Linked DNA regions of Homo sapiens: regions 1, 2, 3 and 4 are each linked to region 5. The links come from fine-mapping of genetic effects on gene expression. A gene starts in region 5. Each other region holds a variant in brackets. All regions are shown on one strand. Distances are between the middles of the regions. Region 1 overlaps DLG5 (discs large MAGUK scaffold protein 5). Region 2 overlaps DLG5 (discs large MAGUK scaffold protein 5). Region 3 has its middle 44 kb from the start of DLG5-AS1. Region 4 overlaps DLG5 (discs large MAGUK scaffold protein 5). Region 5 holds the start of DLG5 (discs large MAGUK scaffold protein 5).

Evidence for each region. PIP is the estimated chance that this variant, and not a neighbour inherited with it, causes the effect.
Region 1: its variant is fine-mapped to the expression of DLG5 in whole blood (TOPMed, PIP above 0.99).
Region 2: its variant is fine-mapped to the expression of DLG5 in whole blood (TOPMed, PIP above 0.99). The same link has a PIP of 0.9 or more in pancreas, subcutaneous fat, thyroid, tibial nerve and transverse colon.
Region 3: its variant is fine-mapped to the expression of DLG5 in tibial artery (GTEx, PIP above 0.99).
Region 4: its variant is fine-mapped to the expression of DLG5 in blood mononuclear cells (TOPMed, PIP above 0.99). The same link has a PIP of 0.9 or more in lung.

The regions. Positions count from the first base shown.
Region 1 is chr10:77,834,212-77,839,211 of GRCh38, reverse strand. It overlaps DLG5 (discs large MAGUK scaffold protein 5), which reads left to right. Exons shown (of 32, transcript NM_004747.4): 8 at 3,290-3,474. Among named protein-coding and RNA genes, the nearest start is that of DLG5, 90 kb to the left of the region's middle. RefSeq lists an enhancer at 1,604-2,224 and a silencer at 2,646-2,918. The variant C/T (reference allele first, on the strand shown) is at 2,758.
Region 2 is chr10:77,817,540-77,822,539 of GRCh38, reverse strand. It overlaps DLG5 (discs large MAGUK scaffold protein 5), which reads left to right. Exons shown (of 32, transcript NM_004747.4): 15 at 439-1,458; 16 at 2,522-2,645; 17 at 3,075-3,219; 18 at 4,651-4,763. Among named protein-coding and RNA genes, the nearest start is that of DLG5, 110 kb to the left of the region's middle. The variant C/T (reference allele first, on the strand shown) is at 3,047.
Region 3 is chr10:77,968,530-77,973,529 of GRCh38, reverse strand. No RefSeq gene overlaps it. Among named protein-coding and RNA genes, the nearest start is that of DLG5-AS1, 44 kb to the right of the region's middle. RefSeq lists enhancers at 1,985-2,279, 1,912-2,422. The variant T/C (reference allele first, on the strand shown) is at 1,929.
Region 4 is chr10:77,791,083-77,796,082 of GRCh38, reverse strand. It overlaps DLG5 (discs large MAGUK scaffold protein 5), which reads left to right. Exons shown (of 32, transcript NM_004747.4): 29 at 1-22; 30 at 1,125-1,234; 31 at 1,966-2,075; 32 at 3,540-5,000. The coding sequence ends at 3,643. Among named protein-coding and RNA genes, the nearest start is that of DLG5, 130 kb to the left of the region's middle. The variant T/G (reference allele first, on the strand shown) is at 2,605.
Region 5 is chr10:77,923,683-77,928,682 of GRCh38, reverse strand. DLG5 (discs large MAGUK scaffold protein 5) reads left to right here and starts at 1,928. Exons shown (of 32, transcript NM_004747.4): 1 at 1,928-2,466. The coding sequence starts at 2,163. DLG5-AS1 (DLG5 antisense RNA 1) reads right to left here and starts at 1,871. Exons shown (of 1, transcript NR_024585.1): 1 at 1-1,871. RefSeq lists a silencer at 59-235.

The sequences.
Region 1 (5,000 bases), 89 kb after region 5:
GAGATCTTTGAAGTTAATCGTGAAGACTGTTTGTAGAAATATAGAAAGCACAGAGATGCACAAAGAACACCTGAGTTCCCTGTGGTGCTGGCGTCCAGCAATGAGACCTCCAGGCCTGACGTCCTTGCGGCAACCACCGCATTCCCAGCACTCAGGCGAGCCATTCAGCCTGGAGCCCGCCTCCATCCTCCACAGGGGGTGTTGACTGGGCATCAAGTGCACCTGTCAGCTGAGGCAGGGATCTTTTCCAGGCCCTGTTCCGAGTCAGCAGGCAGGAGAGAGCCCCCGCGGCTGCCCCATCAGCTCTGAGAGCTGAAATCCTCAGCTCCTTCTCAAGTTGGTCTGGCTTCATGGATAAGAGAGCACTCTCCACCGGCAAGAGCAGACCAGGAGGGGTGGGCAGTGAGGCACCCTGGGGATTGGCCCCGCCACCCCACTGGCTGCTGCCTGTCAGGGGTCAGCTGTGGGGGGCCTTCTGGCAGGTCTAGCTCCCTCACCGCAGAGCCATCTTCATCTTGCTCAGCCCGAGGGCTGGGCTTCAGTTTCTGGCATCGTGCTTGCACGCTTCTGTCTTCTATCTGCACGTCTTGCTCCATTTTCCCCTTTCCTTCTCTATGCCCTCTCTCCCTTCTGTGTTCTGAGTGGGCTGAGGCAAAGAGGGAGCAAAGAGGTAGCATGGGGAGGCCGGGGGCCTGTCAGGATCTTTGCCAGGTTGGCTGTGCCCTTGCCTCCCTCGCCTTCTTCTTCCCAGCTCCCAGGGGAGAGATATCCTCGGGAGCTCCCCTAAGGCCGCCCTCCTGCCTCAGGCCAGTAGCTGACCTTGTCCGGGGAAGTCTCATTGCTCCCAGGAGGAGGGAGGAACTGCCTGGGGAGTTGAGGTCGGCACCACTGGAAGCTGTAGGCCACTGCTGTCTGTTGCAGAAATCTCCCAGGTTCCAACGCACTTTCCTAGACGGGCCCTGCTCACCGAGTTCCGTCTGTAGAAGGGCAGCCCCCCATGCTCCTGCCGTCTGCTGCCCTGAATGCAGTTACACATGCAGCTACAGGTCCTGCTTGAGGAGCTGAGCTCAGCTGTGGTGGATAGACTGGACAGTGCCAGGGGACAAGGCAAGGCAGCAGTGGCCTTTCCAGAACTTAGAGGCAGAGGGCTGTTGTAGCAAGAGAAGCTTCCCAGGAAGCAGAGGGAGGTGCCCTCACCCGAGAGCCATCTGCTCAGGGGCACCACTCCACACTCGGGCCCCATCCTCCCCTGGGACTCTCGAGTGGGCTCTGGCCCTCTGGGGCTGGGTTGCAGCCCATAGGCCTTTCTCACTGGCCTCATGCCTGGGTCTGGCAAGTGTCTTGTGAAGACTAGCCCATCTCTTCCCACGCCTTTGTTCACCCAGCACAGGAAGAAAGAGACTGCAGGTGGCGCTTTTAGAGCAGACTCAGACTGACATCTGATGCCGAGGCAGCCTGGGGTAGAGGAGCCAGTACTGATCAGCTCTGCAGGATGGGGGAGCCCTGGCGAGTCACTTCTAGATCCTGCGGTTCCTCACCAGTGTAATCAGAATCAGTCAGTCCGTCACTTGGGTCCTCTGGGCTTCCAAATTTTACCATTTGTTTAAGGTACCTCATTTCCCTCTCCCCTCTCACTAAAACTAAGTATAGTACTTCTTGTATTCCTTATAAGGAAGCAGTATTTTGGGGATGAATTCATTTTGGATACCAGCAATGGTGTGGGGCCCAGGGAAAGGAAGGGAGCTGTGGGCTGGGGGAGCTGCCCACCTCCTGCGCTGCCTGTCGTCCTGTCTGCACCTGGGGCCTCCCTCCTAGATGCTCATCTAGAGCACCATGGAGAAACCTTTCAGGGAATCCACGTGGTAACGTGTCAGCTCTAAAACTATCCATAAATATATTGTAAAACAGCAAATATAATGTAAATTTTTCAAAGTATTGTTTATCATAAATTCTTGACTAAATTAATACACTTTTTTTTTTTTTTTTTTTTTTTTTTTGAGACCGAGTCTCCCTCTGTTGTCCAGGCTGGAGTGCAGTGGCGCCATCTGGGCTCACTGAGACCTCAGTCTCCCAAGTTCAAGCAATTCTCCTGCCTCAGTCTCCCATGTAGCTGGGACCACAGGCACATGCCACCATGTCTGGCTAATTTTTGTAGTTTTAGTAGAGATGGGGTTTTACCATGTTGGTCAGGCTGGTCTCAAACTCCTGATCTCATGTGATCTGCCTGCCTTGGCCTCCCAAAGTGCTGGGATTACAGGTGTGAGCCACTGTACCCTGCCCCCAAATAATTCTTTTTAAAATGAAAATTTAAGAAGGATTTTTTTTTTTGAAAATAGCAAACTAAACAAACACAGCATACCATGTAAAGCTGAAAAAAAAATCAAAACTGAAATGATTTGAATGACCCCCAGAAACCGTGAGGTCTGAGGAAAGCCTGCCACTGCACTGTCACCCTCGAGTTTTGATGGTCCTTTTTGTGCAAATTATTTTTCAGCTCCTCTGCCTCTGTTTTCAGAGATGAGGGGAATTATCAACTGACTCCAGGTGTTTTCTTGTCAACTTCATTCTCTTCTCTTGTTTTCTACGTCTGAGATCTTTCTGAACACATTTTTGTAGAGGCTGCTGTCTCCTGCTGTCTGGAGAATGATCTTTAGAGGGAACGGAAGCTTTCTTCCTGTGCGTGTGTGTCTTCCTGTGTCCTAGCACTTGGGGGTGGAGAGTCTCGGGGCGGGGACACCAGTGTCATCAGCGCCTCTG[C/T]TGTCGTGCTTCTCTTTTGCATGTTTGGAAAGCCTCAAGCGGGAGGAGGAGTTATTCTTGCAGTAAACACTTGCTTTGTCATCCGTCATTTCCCTGTGTTGTCTAAGGATTATAGAGGTGTGGAGGGGGTTTTCATATGAGTGCTACTAAGAGTTTGACTTGAAATTTTAGTGGAGCATATAACTCTCTAGGGATGTGTCAAGATGCAAATGCTTTGGATTTCAGCTTTTTAAATGAACTGAGATACACAGCACTTCACCAGCAGGAATACTGGTGTATTTTTGTCTTTAAAAATAACTCAGTATGCCAGATTATAGGATCACAGACATGGCGGGGGCTAGGGGGTGCTGGTTAATAGGACCGTGGCTGTGGGGTGCAGTCACTGGGGGTATGGGGTGTGCTGCGATGGGCTCCGTGTTTCCCTCCATCCAGCTCCCTAGAGCCTCAGCCTTGGCCCCCGCACTGGTGGGAGGCGCTCCTGGTCCATGAGGCTCAGCAACCTCTCCCTCTTCCTGCCCCTTGCTCCCACCAGATCAAAGACACGGTGACAATGGATGCTGGGAGAGCCAACAAGGAGGTTGAAATCCTTCGAAAGCAGTGCAAGGCTCTGTGCCAGGAGCTGAAGGAAGCCCTCCAGGAGGCGGATGTGGCCAAGTGCCGGCGGGACTGGGCCTTCCAGGAGCGAGACAAGATTGTAGCAGAGCGTGACAGCATCCGGTATGGGGTGACCTCAAGCTGGCGTGGGCTTGCGTCTCCCCAGGATGAGGGGACCTGCTAGGGTCTGTTGGGAGGGTCGGAATCATTTACTGTATGTCCAGGTAAAGTGGGAGGGACCTGGGCTCCTCCTTTCTCACCCCTAGTTGATGCCCTAGCCTTGCCTCTTAGTTTTAGAATTTTCCATTGTTTCTCCCTCCCATCTCACTCAGCCCTAGGTGTCCCAAGTGTGTACTATGTCCACGTGAGACCGCTGTGAAGGGGCACGAGGCCGACCTCTTTTATTTGAGGGTTTCTGATGAGAAGAGCACATCCGAAGTGTGTCCTTTCAGCAGTATTCACCGGGCGCCTACTGTGTGCCAGGGTCTTAGATCTCTGGAGCAAGGAGACCTTGGGAGAGGCTTGGTCAGGCACGGCAGTGAGGGAGGAAGATGTGTAACTGAGCTCTAGGGCTGTGGGGGGCATGCAGGGCTCCCTGGGGTGTGGGGAGGTCTCCCCAGAGAGTGTGGCATTCGCACTAGAACTGGAAGCATGAGTGGGGTTTTTCCAGGTGGAAAAGGGGGAAGGGCATTGCAGATGGAGGGCACCTGTGGAGTGTGCTCAGGGCAGGGACGTGGGCAAGTCGTGGGGAGGGCAGGCTGGCGAGATTCCCAGGGGCAGGTGTAGAGGCCTTGAAAGGGAAGCCAAGCAGTGTGGGCTTGATCCTTGGCTGGGGAGGAACCAGGAGAGGCTATGGTGGTGGTGATGTTTGGGGTGGGGAGAGATAATGTCTTGCTATTTGGGAGGTGTCCAAAAGATTTCTTGTGGTTTGTCAGGGGAGAGACCAATGTCTCTAGGGGCTGGTCAGGAGATGAGGATGGCTAGGTGGTGAGGCCCTGCTAATGGAGAGCACAGTTAGGTGCCCAGTGCAAGGGGAGGGAGGCCCAGGGGCTGCTTCCTGTCTGCTTCTGCTCAGACCCCTTCCACGGGTGTCTCCAGGGGGCAGTCCTCAGCCAGGCTCTGACTGAGGCTGGGGGAGATTCGAGGCTGTGGAGAGGTAGGAACCAGTCCTCTGGGTATGTCCATTTCTGGAGGTGGCACAGAGCCCAGGCCCCTCCACAGCCAGGTAATCTGTTTCCACCTCCTTGGGGTCCTCTTTCATAGAGTCTTGCCAAGCTTGTACTTTGCACCTGCACAGAGCTAATAGAGACAGAGATGCATGAGGACTGGCTGGTATCCGAAGGGGCTCCCTTCCTAGTTGCAGGGTACAGGGACAGCTCTAGAAAGCTCTGCCTGTGGGTAGATATGAGACATGTGGTAGTGCTGGAGCACAGGCCTGCCAGGCAGGTGGGGGGTGCTTCATGCAGAGGAGAGCCACCCCCTGGCTCCCCAAGTTGGCATTAGAACAGTGAGTGTGTGCAGAGGGTGGTCCTTAACCCCAGGCACATTGAGGGTGAAACAGGGCATTGGGAACCTGACACTTGTTGCCGGGTGACTGTGGGGGTGTCTCTTCCCTGCCCAGGTCCTCCACATTCCCTCTGTCATGCACT
Region 2 (5,000 bases), 110 kb after region 5:
CCCAAGTAGCTGGGACTACAGGTGCATGCCACCGTGCCTGGCTTATTTTTGTAATTTTTGTATAGATGGGGTTTCACCATATCGGTCAGGCTGGTCTCGAACTCCTGACCTCGTGACCCGCCTGCCTCAGCCTACCAAAGCGCTGGGATTACAGGCATGAGCCACTGTGCCCGGCCCAGATAATTTCAGAAAGTGTTCAAAGTTAAGAAAACTTTGACTCTTCTTTGAGTTCAGAGTGACCAGAGCCATGAGAAAACTTATCCATTAGGGAGAAGCATATGTGTTCATGTGTGTGTGCATCTCTGTCTATCTGTCTCTTTTTTAAGGGGCAGGTGGCCCATTCCTGACCATTGCTTTACCTCTGGGGATGGTTTTCAGTGGCAGCTCCAAGTCCTGCCATCTCACTCTCTCTCTCACTCCTCTGCAATCCCTGCCTAGGTATTCCCTCAGAGCTCCTCGTGGAGTGGCCAGAACATTTTTGAAAATATCAAAGACTCTGATAAGATGCTGAGTTTTCGAGCCCATGGCCCGGAGGTCCAGGCTCATAACAAACGGAACTTGATACAGCACAATAACTCCACGCAGACAGACATCTTCTACACGGACAGGCTGGAAGACAGGAAGGAGCCAGGCCCCCCAGGAGGCAGCAGCTCCTTTCTGCATAAGCCATTCCCTGGGGGACCCTTGCAGGTCTGCCCCCAGGCCTGTCCCAGTGCCTCTGAGCGTAGCCTGAGCTCCTTCCGCTCAGATGCCTCTGGGGACCGTGGCTTTGGGCTGGTGGACGTGCGTGGCCGGCGGCCACTGCTGCCCTTTGAGACCGAGGTGGGCCCCTGTGGGGTTGGGGAGGCCTCCCTGGACAAGGCAGACTCTGAAGGCTCCAACAGCGGCGGGACCTGGCCCAAGGCCATGCTCAGCTCCACGGCAGTGCCTGAGAAGCTCTCTGTTTATAAAAAGCCAAAGCAAAGAAAGTCCATCTTTGACCCTAACACTTTCAAACGCCCCCAGACACCCCCCAAAATAGACTACCTGCTTCCAGGTCCTGGGCCTGCTCACTCTCCCCAGCCCTCCAAGAGGGCGGGGCCTCTGACACCCCCAAAACCTCCCAGAAGGAGCGACTCCATTAAGTTCCAGCACAGGCTGGAGACTAGCTCCGAGTCAGAAGCCACTCTGGTGGGCAGCTCCCCATCCACTAGTCCCCCGAGCGCCCTGCCCCCTGACGTGGACCCCGGGGAGCCCATGCACGCATCACCCCCTCGCAAGGCCAGGGTCCGCATTGCTTCCAGCTACTACCCTGAAGGAGATGGGGACTCCTCCCACCTGCCGGCCAAGAAATCCTGTGATGAGGACCTCACCTCCCAGAAGGTGGATGAGCTGGGGCAGAAGCGTCGCCGGCCAAAATCTGCTCCCAGTTTTCGGCCGAAGCTTGCTCCAGTAGTGATTCCTGCTCAGTTCCTGGAGGTATAGCTGAGCCCCAGGGTGTGGGGAGGGGAGGCCTAGAGAGGGGCAGTTGGCCGAAGGAGGGCTGCTAAGTGGCCCTGCACCAGTGTCCCAGGCCCCTGTTTAGCCTGGTGCCTTTGCCTTTGCTGTTGGACTCAAGTGGGAAGTGGCCCAGCTAGGAGGTAGGTAAGTGGCGTGGAAGTGCATGGTAGTGGGAGTGTGACACAAGAGGGGAACACTTTATTGGGCATAGCATTTGGTTTGCTTTTTTAATAAGAAGCTTTTGAACTTACACAATAAAACCTAGGGCATAGACTTGCCTTGAAGGGCTAGGGAGATGAGGTGGCACGTGTGAGGCTGAGTGGGCAGCGGGACGGCCTGATTGCGTGTGCTGTCATAGTTTCCAGAAGGGTGAGATTGCTGGGGACTGTGGAAAGCATCTCAGGCACCAGTCCACACTGCTCACTGGGGACAAAGAGCTTCGCACAGCCCTCCACATCGGGCAGAGTTGTACGTGCCTGATGCACTTGTGCATTCTCACCTTTTACGTGATCTCTGTGAAAGATTCATTCTCTGTGGTTTTCTTCTGAAGTAAAGCTGCTTCCTTGAAGATGTGTAAGGCAACATGAATGGGCAGCGTTCCCATTCATGTCCCTTCCTGTGCCCCAGTGGGAGGAGCTGGTTCCTGGGGGGCAGAAACTGGCTTGCAGAGCTGCTCAAGCGTTCCACTGTTTGGTTTTTTTTTTTTTTTTCCCCTAAGATGGAGTCTCACTCTGTCACCCAGGCTGGAGTACAGTGGTGCAGTCTTGGCTCACTGCAACTTCTGCCTCCCGAGTTCAAGCGATTCTCCTGCCTCAGCCTCCCAAGTAGCTGGGATTACAGGCACCCACTACCATGCCCAGCTAATTTTTGTATTTTTGGTAGAGACGGGATTTCGCCATGTTGGCCAGGGTGGTCTTGAACTCCTGACCTTAGGTGATCTGCCCGCCTCGGCCTCCCAGAGTGCTGGGATTATAGGTGTGAGCCACTGCGCCTGGCCACACTCCACTCTTTCTAGCAGACACTCTTGCCCTTGCATCTGCAGGAACAGAAGTGTGTCCCGGCCAGTGGAGAACTCTCCCCGGAGCTCCAGGAGTGGGCACCTTACTCGCCTGGGCATTCCAGCCGGCACAGCAACCCCCCGCTATACCCTAGCAGGCCGTCTGTGGGTGAGTCAGCCAGCCAGGGGCTGGGGCTGAGGGTCGGTGTAAACTCGGGATGCCTAGTCTCCAGGGAGAGGGGAGGCAGCATTTCAGAGAGCTGCCATGTGTTTTCAGCCCTGAGGTCCAGAGAACTGGGAAATGCTGTCCTGTCTGGGATGGTTTGTCTTATAGCCATGACATGTCTTAGCTTGTCAACATGCTTTCTCCCCATAGCAACCTGGGAAATAGGAAGCATGAAAGAGACTTCCCCCCTTTTTACAAATGGAGACAGGCCAGGAGCCACAGCCACATTGTGAATTGGTGGTTAAAACTCATCTCCCAAGTCCTTTTCCCAAAAGACTGCGGCTGCGTCCTGGGATACAGGGGAAAGGCTTGTGTAAGTCCTGGGCTGGCTGGGTCCTTTGGGG[C/T]GTCTTTTCTCACCAAGCCCATTTCTAGGCACTGTTCCCCGGAGTTTGACCCCCAGCACCACTGTGAGCTCCATCCTGCGGAACCCCATCTACACTGTGCGCAGTCACAGGGTCGGCCCCTGCAGCTCTCCACCTGCGGCCCGAGATGCTGGCCCCCAGGGTTTGCATCCCAGGTATGTGAAGGCACCCTACGCTTCTCTGTACTCCAGCTGCCCAAGCCTGCCTGGACATGGAACCATGAGTGCATAAAGAGGCTCATTGGTGGAGAAGCTTCCTTGCCTGCCTGGGAGGGGACTGGCTAGAGCAGCACAGGGAAAGGGAGCCTTAGGGCTGCTTTCTGAATTCATCAGCACAAGGTTTCAAAAGGTACTGGAAGGACACGATAGTGATAGCAGCTGATGTTTGAGTGCTTATGTCCCAGCCACTGTGCTCAGACCTTTATGAATATCATTTCACCGAATCAACAGCAACCTCATGGGCTAAGTCCTATTACTGTTTCTGTCTTGAAGATGAGGAAACTGGTACTTCATAAGAGGGTGGGCTGGCTCCAAGCCACTCTTATTCATTCATTTGACAGATATTTTTTGAGCACCTACTACATGCCTTGGTCTATCCTAATTATAAGAGGATACATTGCTGAACTAAACAAATTAGCTTCTAGCTCATGTCGTGTGGTTTTTCAAATGTGGGAGGCAGACAAAAAAAAAAAATGAACGAAGTGATATCAGATGGTGCCAAGAGGCTATGAAGGCAGTCAAACAGGGTGACAGGCTGGGCTGTAACTTGGAAGAGGGTGGCAAGTTAGAGTGGGTGGTCAGGAAGGGCCCTGTGGCAGAGGGGATGCTGCTGTGACCAGAAGGATGAAAGAGGCCAGCTGCACAAGACCTGGGCTGGAGCCTCCAGGGAGAAGGGCCATCGGTGCCAAGGCCAGGGCACCCAGGCACAGTCGTGGGAGCTTGTCAAAGGGGCAGCGAGTCAAGAAGAGGTTTGAGGTCACAGGGCACAAACCCTGTGGGACCTGCAGCGGTGATGAAGAGTTTGGATTTTATTCTAAGGACAGTGGAGACCACTGTAGAGTTTAAGCAGGGAAGAGATGTCACCTCATTACATAGCTGGAAAAAGATGCTGTTGAGGCCTGGTCTCAGGGCAGCCTGATGTGGGCGATCCCTGCTCTGCCCTTCATTTTCTTAGGCACGCTGTCCCGAGTGAGGCACATAGGTCCCCTCCCCAAAGTCCTCTGTGCCTTGTCTCTCCTTACCCACTTCCTGGGAGGACAGGTTCCCCCTCCCCAGGCCCACCCAGGTTGCAAAACCTCTGTTTTTTATCACTTCTTCCTAGTGAGCCTAATCCTGACCCTATGGCTGGAGTGGGTATGATACTGACCGCCCCATGTGTGTGGCCCTTTCTACTTCCTGAAGGCTCTTAGTGGATGCCACCTCCGGGAGTGGCTGAGGGCAGCCTGCTATCCTCGGCTGATAATCAGTGGCTCCTGGGCCTCCCTTCTGCCCGCTTGGGAACCCTTGCCTGGTCTGTGTGTTTCTCCCCAGTGGCCACATCTGTTCCTGGTTCTCCTCCCGAACTCCTCACCTCTTGTTTTTACGCAGTGTCCAGCACCAGGGACGCCTGAGCCTGGACCTGAGCCACAGGACCTGCAGCGACTACTCCGAGATGAGAGCCACCCATGGGTCCAACTCACTGCCCTCCAGCGCCCGCCTGGGTAACTGCACCACTTGGACTTTGTGCTGCAGAGGGTGCCAAGCTTTTCATCTCTGCCTGCATCCTAATGTCCAGATCTGCGGGTGGGCTCCCCACACGAGCTCCTGTCACCTCCTGGGACTGAGCTCATTTCTCTACTGGGAAGGGCTGCTTCCTTCATGGGCCAGCCATGCCCATGCTGCTGTCAGAGCCATTGCTTTCGCCTTCCGCTTTCTGTGGGGGCCTTATGGTCATTCAG
Region 3 (5,000 bases), 45 kb before region 5:
CCCAGCTGGTCTCGAACACCTGGGCTCAAGCAATCCTCTCAAAGTGCTGGGATTACAGGCGTGAGCCGCCATGCCCAGCGTCAATTCTCCCTTTCCATCTGGTGCACATGAACAAATTACTTAACCTCTCCTTGCCTCACTTTACTCATTTATAAGCTAGGAATACTGTTTAGTAGTGTTTGACTCATTGGGTCATTGTGAGTTTTAAACGTGATTACACATAAAAAGGTCTTAGTACAGTGCCTGGCACATAATACACATTAAATGTTTGCAATTATTAATACAGTGACTTTTTTTTTTACTGAAAAACATGGTCTGTGAATTCACAACTAAAAACCAATCCCCTGGCTCTCTTTATTTGACCCTAAGTGGAGCTTGGTGGACTTGGGATCCAGCCTCCCTAGACATAATGACTACCCAGCTGTCTGCTCAATCAGTAGGTCGTGGGAAGTATTTTACATGGGGGGGGAGAAGGGTTCGGGAAGGGGATGGATGTGGCCACTGTGTGGTTGAGGGCTTGAACACTTTAATGCAGGCCATAAGGTAAGCGTGATCTCATTTTAGAGTCACAGGTAGTAAGACCAGAATAATTCAGACAGGCAGGTTTTTTTGTAGAGGTATGGATGTTGACAACAGCTATGTATTTAGATTATGTAAGAAGGTATCCCATAAGGGAGAACTTAACATTTTTCTCTCTCTTTAAAAGAATATATTAGGGCCGGGCACAGTGGCTCATGCCTATAATCCCAACACTTTGGGAGGCTGAGGCTGGTGGATCATTTGAGGTCAGGAGTTTAAGACCAGCCTGGCCAACATGGTGAAACCCCGTCTCTACTAAAAATACAAAAATTAGCCGGGTACTAGTGGTACACACCTGTAATCCCAGCTACTCAGGAGGCTGAGGCAGGAGAATCACTTGATCCTGGGAGGCAGAGGTTGTGATGAGCCAAGATCACGCCACTGTACTTCAGTATGGGTAACAGAGTGAGACCCTGTTAAAAAAAAAAAAAAAAGAAGAAGAAGAAGAATGGAACAGAAAATGGGTATGACAAGGACAGAGGTAGGAAGTGACCCTATGTTTTTTGTTTGTTTGTTTTCCCAGACAGGTTCATGCTCTGTCGCCCAGGCTGGAGTAGAGTGGCGTGATGATCTCGGGTCGCTGCAACCTCTTCACCTCCCAGGCTCAAGCAGTCCTTCCCATCTCAGCCTCCAGAGCGAGTAGGACTACAGGCACATTGCCCAGCTAATTTTTCTTTCTTTTTTTTTTTTTTTTTTTTTGGTAGAGATGGGGTTTCACCATGTTGCCCAGGCTTCACTCTGTTCTATTGTACCTTTCTAATTTTGTACCTTCTGAAGGTCTTGCCAGTTTTTGTTTTTTTTTTTAATCAATACCTAGCAGCCTGGGCAACATGGCAAAACCCCATCTCTACAAAAAATACAAAAAAATTAACTGGGCATCATGGCTCACATCTGTGGTCCCAGCTGAGGTGGGAGGATCAATTGAGCCCAGGAGGTGGAGGCTGCAGTGAGCCAAGATCCACTGCATTCCGGCCTGGGCAACACAGTGAGACCCTGTCTCAAAAAAATAAATCAACAGCTGATGGTAAAGAAATCCAGTCATCTTGGAGCAGACCCTGTCCGGGAAGGTACTTGAGTGTTCTCAAGGTAGTTGAGTGGTCCCTTCCAGTGATAGCAACGTAAGGCTGGTAGGCACCAGTCACCAGTTAGGACAAGGTGACCAAAAAATGCAAGTCAACAAGCCTGAAATACATAGGATTTTCTTTTCTGACATGAAAAGTCCACAGTAGGCATTCCAAGGCTGATACGACAGTTCACCAAGTTGTCGGGGAGGGACCCAGGCCCCTCCCAGCCTTCTGCTACACCACCCCTCCACCATTCCTCATGGTTCAATGTGGCTGCTGAGGTTC[T/C]AGGCATTCCAGCCAGGAGAAGGGGAAAGAGACATAGCACTTCCCTTTAAGGAAAGTTCCCAAAAGTTACTTGACACTTCTGTTTACATCCCATGAGCCAGAACTTACGTAGCCAAACCCAGCTCCAGAGAGGCTGGAAAATGTTTGGACTCTGGGTGGCCATGTGCCTAGCTAAAAATAGACGCCTCTGTTAGCAAAGAAAGAGGGGGAGGGCCACAGGAAGTGGAGGATGATCGTATCTCTGCCTCTGATGGGCAGGACCTTTCTTTTTTTCTTTTTTGGCTTGACAAAGGTCAGAATATCCCCCTAATCCCTCAGAAAAAAGAGACTGAGACCCTGATCCCTTCATTCTCCCTTTTCCTTTCCCCTTCTTGCAAATTTCATGCTTGAGTTACGGTGGGGTTTTTTTGTTTTGTTTTGTTTTAAATATATAAACTGACATTTAAATTAGATCACATTCCCTTTGCAGGCTGTTTAAAATGTTTCAGGGCTGATGGAAAATGTGACTGTCAAACATTCATTCAACAAATAACACTTTTTTGACCCCCTACTATATCCTGGCGCCAATACCAGGTCCTGGGTTTAGAATGATGAGCAATATTCCTATGGCTCTTTTCCTTGTGGAATTAATCTAGTCACAGCACTGTCCAGCAGTACTGTAGTATATAGTAATATAGATGACAGTAATTATGTAAGTCATATGTAATTTGTTTTTGTTTTTGTTTTTGAGATGGAGTCTTGATCTGTTGCCCAGGCTAGAGTGCAGTGGCGCAGTCTTGGCTCACTGCAACCTCCACCTCCTGGGTTCAAGCAATTTTCCTGTCTCAGCCACCCAAGTAGCTGGCAGTACAGGCACACGCCACTATGCCCAGCTAATTTTTTCATATTTTTAGTAGAGATGGGGTTTCACCATATTGGTCAGACTGGTCTTGAACTCCTGACCTCACGTGATCCACCCACCTCGGCCTCCCAAAGTACTGGGATTACAGGTGTGAGCCACCACTCCTGGCCCATATGTAATTTTAAATCTAGTATTGGCCAGGTATGGTAGCTCACGTCTGTAATCCCAGCACTTTGGGAGGCTGAGGCAGGAGTACTGCTTGAATCCAGGAGTTTGAGACCATCCTGAGCAACATGTCAAAACCCTGTCTTTACAAAGAATACAAAACATTATCCAGGCATGGTGGCACGCACTTGTAATCCCAGCTACTTGGGAGGCTGAGGTGGGAGGATCACCTGAGCCTAGGGAGAAAAAATGAGAAATTAATTTTAACAATGCATTTTATTTAACCCAACGTACCCAAAATGTCATTTCAACATGTAATCAATATAAAAATGACTGAGATATTTTACACTCTTATTTTCATACTAAGTTTTCCAATTCCAGTGTCTATTTTACACTTAGCACATAGCGAGTTTCACATGCTCAGTAGCCACATAGCCTAGGGGTTGGCCATTCAGCTCCTCCATTTACTCTCCAAGAACTTTCCAGTAAATGCTTCCTGGGGCTTAGGCTAACCAGAAATGATTTTCTATTTCCTGCTAGCCTGGCCCCAACCCTGAGACCTGTATGAAGGTGGATAGTCCACACTCAGAAAAGAGAAGCAGGATGGTAGTCATGGAAGCTGGAATCTGCCAAGGAGTATGGAACAACTCACCAGCCAAATGAACTCGTCCTAAAAATATGGATCTAATTTTTTTAAAAAAGAAAAGGCCAAGTGCAGTGGCTCACACCCATAATCCCAGCATCCCAGCACTTGGGAGGCCGAGGTAGATGGATCACTTGAGGTCAGGAGTTCGAGATCAGCCTGGCCAACATGGTGACACCCCATCTCTACTAAAGATACAAAAATTAGCCAGGCATGGTGGCATGTGCCTGTAGTCCCAGCTACTCGGGAGGCTGAAGCATGAGAATCGCTTGGACCTGGGAGGCAGAGGCTGCGGTGAGCCAAAATTGCGCCAATGCACTCCAGCCTGGGTGACAGAAGAAGACCCTGTTTCAGGGGGAAAAAAAAGAAAAAGAAAGGAAAGGGAAAAAACATGAAGAGAGCCCAGTGTATCCAGACCCGAGTCTCATCACCTTCTCAGGAAGCTTTTTGGGTTGTCCAGGCCTTAAGTAGGCCTGTGCTTCCAAACTTCATTTCTGGGAGGAGTGCCAGTGGGCTGGGGAAGTCGGAGGCTAGAAGAAGCCTGTTCTTGTACCTTGCAGTCTGTTCCACCACCGAGGAACAGGCCTGACCCGAGTGGCCTGCAGTAAAGCTCCGAGTCAGGGAGCATGGTATAATCACCTGACACTGGTGTTACAGGTAAATCACAATCTCTCCCCATAGACAACATGATCTTCCTCATGTACAAGATAAGCTACTTATTCAGTAAGACAGCACTCAGGGAAGTATGAATTTGCAGATCTGGTGATAAATCCACTGGTCTGGCAGAAATGGACCTGGACTGGGATAGCCATGACTCCAGTTCTAGCCACCTTTCTGCCTGCCATTAGCGGCATTGCCTTCGGCAGGCTGCCTCCCTTCTGCATCTGTTTCCCAGTCTATATAGTGGAGATTAAAGTCTCAGCCATGCATTTCTGCTTCCAAGCATCCGTGAGGCATCTAGAAGCTGGAAAGCTTTGTACATCGCTTAGGCAGAACACGCGGAGGGAGCTGGTCACTGCTGATGGAGTCTCAAGTATTGGCTAGCTCCTTCCATACCTCACCCTCTTACCTTTCAGGAATTGTCCTGGGACCTGAAGCTGAGCCCCAAGACGGTGCCTGGGACCCCCCCCCAACCCGGCCCTGGTGTCAGTGTGTGCCACAGCTTACCCTGCTGTTCTCTAGGCCCCTTCCCTAATACTGAAACTACTGTCTAACCTGGGTGGTTTTTTTTTTTTTGCATTTTGGAGGGGGGATGGGGAGAGGGGGGACAGTTTTGTTCTTTTTGCCCAGGCTGGAGTGCAATGGCATGATCTCAGCTCACTGCAACCTCTGCCTCCTGGGTTCAAATGATTCTCCTGCCTCAGCCTCCTAAGTAGCTGAGATTACAGGCACACACCACCATGCCCGGCTAATTTTGGTATTT
Region 4 (5,000 bases), 130 kb after region 5:
AATAAAGGAGATCACAGAAAAGGTACCCAGGGCTTCAGTCTGAGGATTAGGCATCCAGTATTAGACCTCCTGTGCACAGGTCTAGGCCCCTGGTCCGTGATCCTCTGCCCCAGCGGCTCAGACCTTCAGTGAGCCCACCGTGTTGTGTTAGTCTGAGTTCACCTGTGCCTGGGCTTGCCCTCATGGCTGCTGTGTGTTTCTGCAAGCACATCCCTTGGTGGGGATGGAGGAGTTCCCCTGTGTATGTGCCGCCCCATCTTCCTCTCTGGCAGGTGCGGGGGGTCTCATCTCTGATGAGAGTATTGAGCTCTGCGGAAAGGCCTCTCGCAGGGCATTCCGGAACGGGGTCCCCAAATGCATGTGCCGAACAATTTCACATGCACCTTCTGGGGACAGGAACGTGCCTTCCCTCAGGGTCCCTGCCCCTAAAAGGGCTATGACTCTCGGTGCCTTCGAACATCCTAGGCAGCACGAGGGCGGGGACGTCTGTGGGGAGTGCTGGTGGGGCAAACACTCGGAGTCCAAGGACACAGCCGCTCCTTGGGCTCCATTTCTCCAGGCTGCTCAGCTCGCTCGCTGGGCTTTGCTTCCCTTCTCTGTTAGATGAAGGTGTTGGCTTCTCACTGCTGAAAGTGGGCAAACTCTACTTGGGGGAATGCCCCAGTGGAGCATCTGGGGGTCGGGAGTGCACGGGCCTGCACTCCACCTGGATGCCTGGGACGACAGACATGACAGACATATTTCAGTCTCAGCCACACAAAGGCTCACCAGACTCTGGCTCTTCATTCGCTCAGTCTGGCAAAAATAAGGCTTCAGAGGCCAGGGTGGGGCAGGGCTTTCAGAAGGTCCCTGTATCTGGGCAAAGGCGGGAAAGGAAGTTTGGAGTTGGGCTGGCCAGCACCCCTAGCCCCCTAAGCCCTGGCTCCCAGCCTTGGCCTTCCTCACAGCAAGTGGGGTTTGTTGGGAGTTTCGTGGGTATGGTTTCCCCACGGTGTACTGTGTGGCTTTACTGCCTTGTTTGTGGGTAGAGCCCTGTGAGGTGAGGTGGGTCCTGCTGGTGGCAGGACAGGGGGCTGGCTGCCCCTCACTGCCCGCCAGGGCTCACTCTGCACCCCCCACCCCAGAACCGACACTGCCTCCTGGACATTGCTCCGCACGCTATTGAGCGGCTCCACCACATGCACATCTACCCCATTGTCATCTTCATCCACTACAAGAGCGCCAAGCACATCAAGTAGGTAACTGGCCCCCTGGGCTCCGCTGGGGCCTTGTCACAGGTGGGGCTGGGAGCCCAAGTAGGGAGCAGGGTGTGTTGGGGTGGGGGGTTGAGGAATGAGAGATGGGCCTATGGGTCTTGAAATAGGCAGTACGTGTAGAAAATGACCCTTCCCTGTCGGCCCTGTCCCCTACTCAGAGGTGGTGTCAGCCAAGCGCAGCCCCTTCCTCGCGCCCCTCCGCCATTTGGGTGCTGCCACTGTTTTTTGGGCATGGCCAGCTTGGTCTGCACAGCTCCCCTCTCCTGCCCCAGCCCCCTTTCCTCGCTACGTGCTGCTTAGGAGCAGGGGAGCCAGTGGCCTGGGCACAGTCCCACTCAGCCCCGAGCTGGCTCATGACTCAGGAGCCGTTGCCTTCGCTGAGCTTCGGCTCCTGTGCTGGTTGGGCCAAGGGCTCACCAAGGCCCTGCTCCATTTTGCCTTTCTGTGCTGCTGAGCTTCTGGGACCTGCGCTAGGGGCTGCTGGTGCATCTGTTCCAAGTGTGTGTGCTGGGGGGCCCTCCTTCCCCCATCTGCCCAGAGCTCCCCCGACAGCCTACAGGCTGTTGCTGTGCTTTATGTGGGGAGCACATGGGGCCTCCCTCCACAGCCTACCCCTGCCTTGATGGGGCCCCTGTTAGCCTGGACAGAGGAAGGAAAGAGGGCCTGGAGGAGGCTCAGTGCTCAGCCTGGTGTCTGGCTGTCCCCACAGGGAGCAGAGAGACCCCATCTACCTGAGGGACAAGGTGACTCAGAGGCATTCCAAAGAGCAGTTTGAGGCGGCGCAGAAGCTTGAGCAGGAGTACAGCAGGTACTTCACAGGTAGGTGTGCGTGGGCCTGGAGTGGGGAGCAGGCAGCAGGGAAGGAAGCAGAGGCTTCCTAAGGCTGTTTTCTTAGCCGTGGAGAAGCCCGCACTTTCTACATGCTCCCAAGTGCTGTCATGAGCACGTTCCTGACAAGTCAGGTGTTCAGATTGCAGTCCCTGGCCAACGTCAGGATTCTTACAGGTTGAATGTTAAGCTCACCGATCTTGGCCTCAGGTCCTGCCTGGCTTGCCTGCTCATTTTCACACGTGCAGTGGTGGGTCTGTCTCATAGCACAGGTGCAGTTTAGTGCAGCCACAGTGTCCCCAGGCAGGGCGGGGACTGGAGCAGCCCCCAGTGTGCCAGCAGTGTGGGCAGCGGAGGCTAGGGGCCCATCTGTCCCTAGCACCCTCCAGGGCAGTCCCGTTTTGCAGCGGGATTTGGCAAACCCCCCTCCAAAAAAAAAAAAACAAAAAACAAAACAAAAAAAAACAATGCTGTCCCCTTACCATCTCTGGTCTTCAAAGTGAAACAAACTCAGTGAAGT[T/G]TGGTTCTATTTTACCTTCTGGCCTTCAGCCTCTTTGGGAAAGTCTGTCATTTGCAGGGCATTAGCATTTGCAGTCACAGAGGATGGGACAGGGATTCTAACTGCATTGTGGAGAGTGTTATGATCTAGTCCAGGGACCTGGGCTTGGTGCCCATGTGTGTGTAGGTATGTGCAGGTGTGCATGCCTCTGTGTGTGTGTGTGTGTGGGTGTGTGTGTGAACTTTCATTTCCAATTCCTCACAGACTGGTATTTAGCCAAATACACTGACAATTCCTAGAGAGATGAAAATTTAAAACTCTAAGTCTTGCAAAAGGTAAGCTCTATTTTTTTCTTGTTAGATTCAACAGACATAAAATTACGACGTCCTGTTTCCATAGCAGTTTCTAGACACTCACTGTCAATTTCTGAGCATGCCTTGTTGCAGTAGGGGCTTGGTTTGTGTCCAGGTGCTGTTATGTGGAGCACACTGGAGTACCCCTGGCCTGGTGTCTATAGACCCCTTTGTCAAACTCCTATAGTACAGGGCTGGCCCAAGTTGGCGCCATCATCTTTCTGTGACTCTCCTCTTGGCCATGAGCTATCTGGCTCCTTAAACTTGTCGTTTCCTGCAGAATCCTGCTAATGATTAGACCACCGCCACATGTCCTCCAAACTTCCTTCTGATGCCCTGGGATTCCCCCAACCATTGCAAACCCAACCCAGGGTGTTAACTGCAGTGGGGTGGGCAGTTTACATATGAGTGATCAACTCAAGAGGGGCAATTTTCTTTCCCAGTTTCTTGCTGGTGAAGGAGAGTCAGGTGGGGATGGAGCAGAGTGCCAAGGAGCACAAAGCAGACAGCCACACAGTAGAAAGAGTGCAAGCTGTACTGCCTTGCCTCAAACCTGGGGTCTTACTCTGAGCTGAATGACGTGTCTGGGGGGCTCTTTTGCAGGGGTCATCCAGGGAGGAGCCCTGTCAAGCATTTGCACTCAGATCTTGGCAATGGTCAATCAAGAACAAAATAAAGTCCTGTGGATTCCAGCCTGCCCGCTCTAGGAGAATGCTGTGCTGTGGATGACTGCAGCTGGCCGCCTGAGGGGACACCAGACTCAGCTCTTTTCTAGCGACTGAAAGTAGAAGTCTGTCCGTCTATGAACATGCGGGGGAAGGATCCGGAACCAGGACCCAGAAGCACCTCCTTTGTAGACAGAGGGCCACGGCTGCGTGCGATCCAGGCCCAGGCCCACACACTCTGCCCGTGTCACACGTGTGCTTTAACACAAAACAGATAACACTAAAGACGGGTTCAGCACCCACCTTTCTTTAGCCAGCTGATCAGAGATGCTGCAAAGAGAACCTTTCGGATCACTCGTTTACAAGCCTTTTCTAAGTATTTGGTGGTTTATGTTTACTTGAACGGCTCCATGTTGCCGGTGCCCAGCCCCTGTCCCCTCTGTCAACCCCCTGTCGCTTTGGTGTTGGTTTCGTTCCCGTCTTCAGCAAAACGACCTTGGAACCTCAATGGGGGCTGCTTTGCTTTGGGAGGTTCTTGTTGGTGGGACCAGAGCTTTGACAAACCTCCTGCTCCTTGGTGGCACCTCTCCTGGAAGGACGTCACAACTCCAGGTGCTCAGACTGCCTGTGGCAGCAGAACCAGTGCCTTTGGCATTTTCCTCCCACAATGGGGAAGGTGACTTTGGCATTCTTACAAACTCGTCTCTCGGCCTTTCTCTCCTGCCTTCCACAGCCTCTCGTTTCTCCTCCATCTGTGCTTATTACTTGAGGACTGTGTCTGCTCCGTGAGAGCTGCGTGGGCAGGGCTGCAGTGGGGTCCAGGTGGTGTTCAGCTGTGCTGATGCCTGCCATTGGGTCCTCCTTAGGCTCTGTAAGTCGTGACAGCCTTCATCAGTGCAATGTTTGCAGGGTAATTCTTAAACTTTTTAGAGGGTGGCAGGTACATCAGTTCTTTTTGATATGAAAACATTCATGTTTCAGACATTGAATTGAGAGCTTTTAGGGGAAGCATAATGGTTATTGTCACTATCAACAGTCTAAAAAGAAAAACTGAGGTCTTTTTAATCTTGATTACAGCACTCACGGCATGCACCCTACTCAGTGTGGGTGTCTTCGTTTGGGGGCTTTTTTTTTTTTTGCACTTCTGAGGCTAGATATGTCTGGCTGAAGATTTGATGTGGTTCCTCCTTAAGCTATGCGTCCTGTTAATAATAGGTACTGTACTGGGCTCTGTGTAAGTGTCGTTGGGGTAGGACCTATATTTTAATACTGTTCCTAACATTTCATTTTACTAGCGAGAAATCTTTGATTTCATTTTATTCTTTGTAATTCTAGACACTAGATTGTAGTTTAGCCATAACTGATGTTTTTTAAAAAGGGATATATTTTCTTGCACAGT
Region 5 (5,000 bases):
CCACTTTCACCTTCCTTCCTCCAACTAGCTTTCTAGTTAATCCAGCTAAGAACACAGGTGCCGGATGAAAGGTGCCTGAAAGGTGACTGCCTTGCAGATGATTTAAGCTCTGGGGTTGCCCTAAGGGAAGTGGCGGCCAGAAAGAACTATATCTCAGGAGCAGGACTGGGAGGGAAGAGCCAGGGAGCCTGTCTGGAACCCTGATACTGTGCAATGGCCAGCCTTCCACTCCTCTAAAACCTTGCTTAGCCATAGAGGGTCAGACTACGGGAGCAGGCAGGTATCTTTAAATAGTTCATTTCTGCCATATTGGGGTCCATCTGGAGGTCTTAAAGAACTTGTAACTCTATGGACCCCATTCCAGAAAAATATATAAATGTTCACAAAAAAGTTGAGATCATGTCAAAAGCTTCATTGACATCCTTGAGCTTATTCATGAAGCCAAGGCTAAGAACCCCTGATCTAATATTCTCCCTCCACCATTTTTCCTAAGGACAAAACAGATCAGCAAGGATTATTGGTTTGTTCCACCTTGTGCAGCTGCTTAGAGGGGAGTCCAAGTCCAAAGTGCAAATTCTGATACTCTTGTTCTTTCTACCATATAGTGAGTTCGTTTCCATAAATAAAAACGACTTCTCCCCTTGAAGAAGCAGACTAAGAAGACACTGCTTTTTGAGGGAAGGGAGGAGGCATGTGGCTGGGACTGGCAGTGTGGGTAGACAAAGTGCCTCTCACCCCCAGCGAGATCCACTCATTCCAACGTAGATATTTGAAATGGACCTGGGTTCCCACTCTACAGAGGAGCACTGCGGGATCACTGAGCGCAGTCAGAGTTCCAGCTTTGAAGGACCTTGTCCTGCAGTCAGGGAGGTAAGCAGTATGTGTCCACAAACGGCTGTCGTGGAAGAGAAGACATTCTTGGGCTTTAAGGGGGACTGCAGATCCTTTCCAAGTCATCAAAGGAAGCAAGGTAGTCCGCTGATTTGTCTCCCTCTGAGACATTTAGGGGGAGAGCGCCTCACTTGCCAGAAAGACCAAGGACTGCACCGCAGACACCCACCTTTCTTTTCCTCATCCGGCGACACATCCTTCCTCCTGCCAACATCCTAACTCCTTTACACTCTGGGGACCAGCTCTTCTCAAATGCTGGCGCGGGGAACAGCCTATTTACCGCAGTTGAGGCGATTTTACTGGGAAATTCTCTTAGGAGCTCCTTGGAGAGGGAAAGCCTCACGGATTCGGCGGAGGTCTTAATCTGGAGATGTCCAAATTTAGGGGAAACCCTCCCCACCATTTGTCTCCAGGCTGTATTTTGGAGTTCTCAGATTAGGACCCTCTGGACTGGGGGCAAGATTTGTATGAGGGGGTCTCCAGCAGCTTGTGGGCTGGCCGCGTGCCAGGCCTGACTCCGTGTCCCCCACCCCCGGCTGCGCCTGGGCCTCGGGGGACCGGGAACCAGCCGGCGCCGCGTCCCCGCCTAGCGGGCGGGCCGGGGACCCCTCCCCTCCGCCCGTCCCCTCCTCCCCTGCTGCCGCCTCCCGGAGGGACGGCCTGGGGAGGGGAGAGAGGAGGGACGGGCCGGCGGCGGCGGGGCTGTGGCCACGGGGGAGCGGGTGGCGGCCGCGGGGCCCCGGTGAGCCGGGCCGGGGTGCACGGGGGCCGAGGCGGCCTCCGAGCCGGGCCGGAGCTGTCGGGAGCCTGGGAAACACGGCCCAGGCGACTTTCTCCCGGGAGTTGTAGTCTTGCTCTGGGGGCGGCGCGCGGCCCGGCTTTCGGGGCGAGTTTTCTCGCGGGGCGGGCGGCGCGCGCGGAGGCTGAGGGGGAGGGGGAGCATGCCCGGCTGGAGCCCGGCCTCGGGGCGCGCCCCGGCCGCCGTCCCCACCTCCGCCTCCTCCTTCTCCTCCTCCGTCTCCTCCTCCTCCTCTTCCAGTCCCGCCGCCGCGGCAGCCAACATGGCTGCGCTCCGGAGCCCGGGAGGCGGCCGCTGCTGAGCGCCGCCCGCCGCCCCGGGCCCCCAGCCCGCCCAGGCCCCGGCCCATGGCTCCCGCCGCCTCACGGCTCCCGGCGCCCTAGGGCTGCTGCCGAGGTGCTCGCCTGCCCGCCCGCCGGCCTCGGGGGGCCCGGGAGGCGTCCGGCGGGGCGGGGCGGCGCGGCCCGCCACCATGGAGCCCCAGCGCCGGGAGCTGCTCGCCCAGTGTCAGCAGAGCCTGGCCCAGGCCATGACGGAGGTGGAAGCCGTGCTCGGGCTGCTCGAGGCCGCGGGAGCGCTCAGTCCCGGCGAGCGGCGGCAGCTGGACGAGGAGGCGGGAGGCGCCAAGGCGGAGCTGCTGCTCAAGCTGCTCTTGGCCAAGGAGCGGGACCACTTCCAGGACCTGCGGGCGGCGCTGGAGAAGACGCAGCCTCACCTGCTGCCCATTCTCTACCTGAACGGCGTCGTCGGGCCGCCGCAGCCCGCCGAAGGCGCGGGTGAGTGGCAGACCCTTGGCCCCCGCCTCTGGGACGCGCCCTCCGCTTCTCCCTCCTGCTGGCCGAGGGTACCTCGCCGGGGCCGCCGCTCCACCTGGCGATGGCCTCGGTGGACTCGCTCCTCTGGCCCAGTTGGGGAGGCGGCGGTGCGCGGATCCCGAAGTCCCGCCGCCTCCCCCAGTCCCGCCGTTCGCTGTGAACAATGCCCCCCGCTGAAGGCCTTCACTCTCAGGTGCCTCGACGACAGGGTCCCCGGGGGCCACCAGGTCCAGTAGCGGGTAGGGGGTACCTCGGAGGATGTCCATCAGTCCCTTTTCTGAGGCTCCTCACCGTCCGCTAGCTTTGGCACCCTGTGCTAGCCTTTAACCAAGGGTACCGTCCAGAAGAATGGGACTTGGGCCAGGACCCCTACTCTTAAGTTTTGGTCGCTGCCATCCTGTGCCGGGGCCACAACTGCTTTTTCATTTTCTGGCTGTCCCAGCTCCTTTTTCTCTGCTCAGAGCCCAGTCTCTCCCAGACTGGTGGCTGATTGTGCACAACGCCTGCCTGGGTTTCTTTGGAAACTGGGCCCGGAAAAGTTGGGGAAGTTGCATTGCACCATGGGAAAATCCTAGTAGTGGCTGCTGGGGCTAAGTTCTCTCCCTGAGAGCACAGAGCTGCTTAACGAGGAAGGCTGGTGACTGGTTCCCTTGAGGGTGCCTTTTGGAACCCCTGTGTCTTTGGTCTTGGGGATGACTGATTTGTAAGTGTGTGTCTGGGTGCAGGAACGGATACTGGCGGGAGTTTCTGACAAGTGGTAGGCTTGTCCTGGCCTGGCCGTGGAGTGTGGAAGCCAGCCTTTTTAGACAAGGCAGCTGGAGGAAGAAGACATGGCACTGAGGGAGGAGGAGAACTAGCATTTATTGGGCATCTACTGTTGTGGCAGGCGCTCTGCTTTATCACGTTCAGTTGTCGTTGCCACTATGTGAGCTTTCTGTTATTCTTTGCCAGAGAGAAAACTCTGGCTTGGAGTGGTTAAAATGCTCAGAAAGTATTGGGCACCAGGAATTTTGAATTATAACCTATTGTTTGATTTAACTTGTTCAGAGCCAGGAAACAAAGTGCCATCTTTCTAGGTCTTGTCCCTGTTTTAACAGTGAATCGATAGGTACAGTAAAAATAAATAAGGATATATGTATAAAAGAAAAACAAGTGAACCGAGAGGGCTGAGAAACTGCCCTTAGCAACCTGAAGGTCAAAGGCTGATGGGACCCATTTATTTGGCTGTTAAAAGCCCCACTTATTAAGGGAATGATTTTATAAGGCATTCCTGGTAACAGCTCTCTTACGTTGGCCATCTTAACCTCAATTTTTGTAGCTGCAGGAAACTGACAGAGAGACTAAATTGCTGGCCACACAGCAGGTCATTTCATTGGTGGCCCTCCCGTCTCCACTTTGAGCTTCTGACTTGCATCTCTGTCCCTCAAACCTGCATTCTTTCCCCCCAGTTGTGGTCATGTCAGAGTTACTGGGCAAACCTAGTCCTTTCCTGGGATAGTGCTTTGGGAGATGCTAGGAAGGGACTGTCAGATGTGGCCATGAGGATAAGGACAGAGGGGATCTCAACAAAGTAATTTTTTTCTTTTTAATTGTATCTATGTATCTATCTAATCTATCTCTGAATGAAGAAGTTAAGATCTGTTTCTGAAAGTCTTTCGTAAAGCACAGAACTTAGTACAGACTGGAAGTCTGCGTTGGGAAGCATGTGAATCAACGCTCGCCTTAATCTCTGAAAATTGATTGATGGATCAATTGCCATTAATTAGGTCTCACCCTTTCCGTGTCTGGTGGAGAATGTGGGGCCTCATGGGGCTGAAGTTCTAGGAGCTAGTCTTGACCTCTAAGGAAGGCAGAGATTAGGGTTTGGATTTTATCCCCTAGGGCATTGATTTCAGACCCCAGTTTTACCACAATGCAGAGTTATGTGACTTTGGAGAGGGTCATGAAATCCTTAGAAAAATACTTTTCAAGGAGAAGTTAAGTTCATTTTACTTAATGCATTAGAAAAACGCTGGTTGGGTGTGGTGGCTCATGCCTGTAATCCCAGCACTTTGGGAGGCCGAGGCGGGCAGATCTCTTAAGGCCAGGAGTTCGAGACCAGCCTGGCCAACATGGTGAAACCCCGTCTCTAATAAAAATACAAAAATTAACTGGGCGTGGTTGTGGGCGCCTGTAGTCCCAGCTACTTGGGAGGCTGAGGCAGGAGAATCACTTGAATCTGGGAAGTGGAGGTTACAGTGAGTTGACATGGTGCCCTTGGATTCCAGCCTAGGTGACAGAGCAAGACTCCTTCTCAAAAAAAAAGAAAGAAAAAAGTTAGGACAGCATTTGGTATGGCAAGATGCCACCTGAAGCCCCTGGGGAAGAGGGTGACATGGTGTGTCAGCAAACAGTGGCGTGTTGGGGGCTTTTGTTTTTTTGAGACAGGGTCTCACTGTGTCACCCAGGCTGGAGTGCAGTGGCACAATCTCGGCTCACTGCAGCCTCCGCCTCCT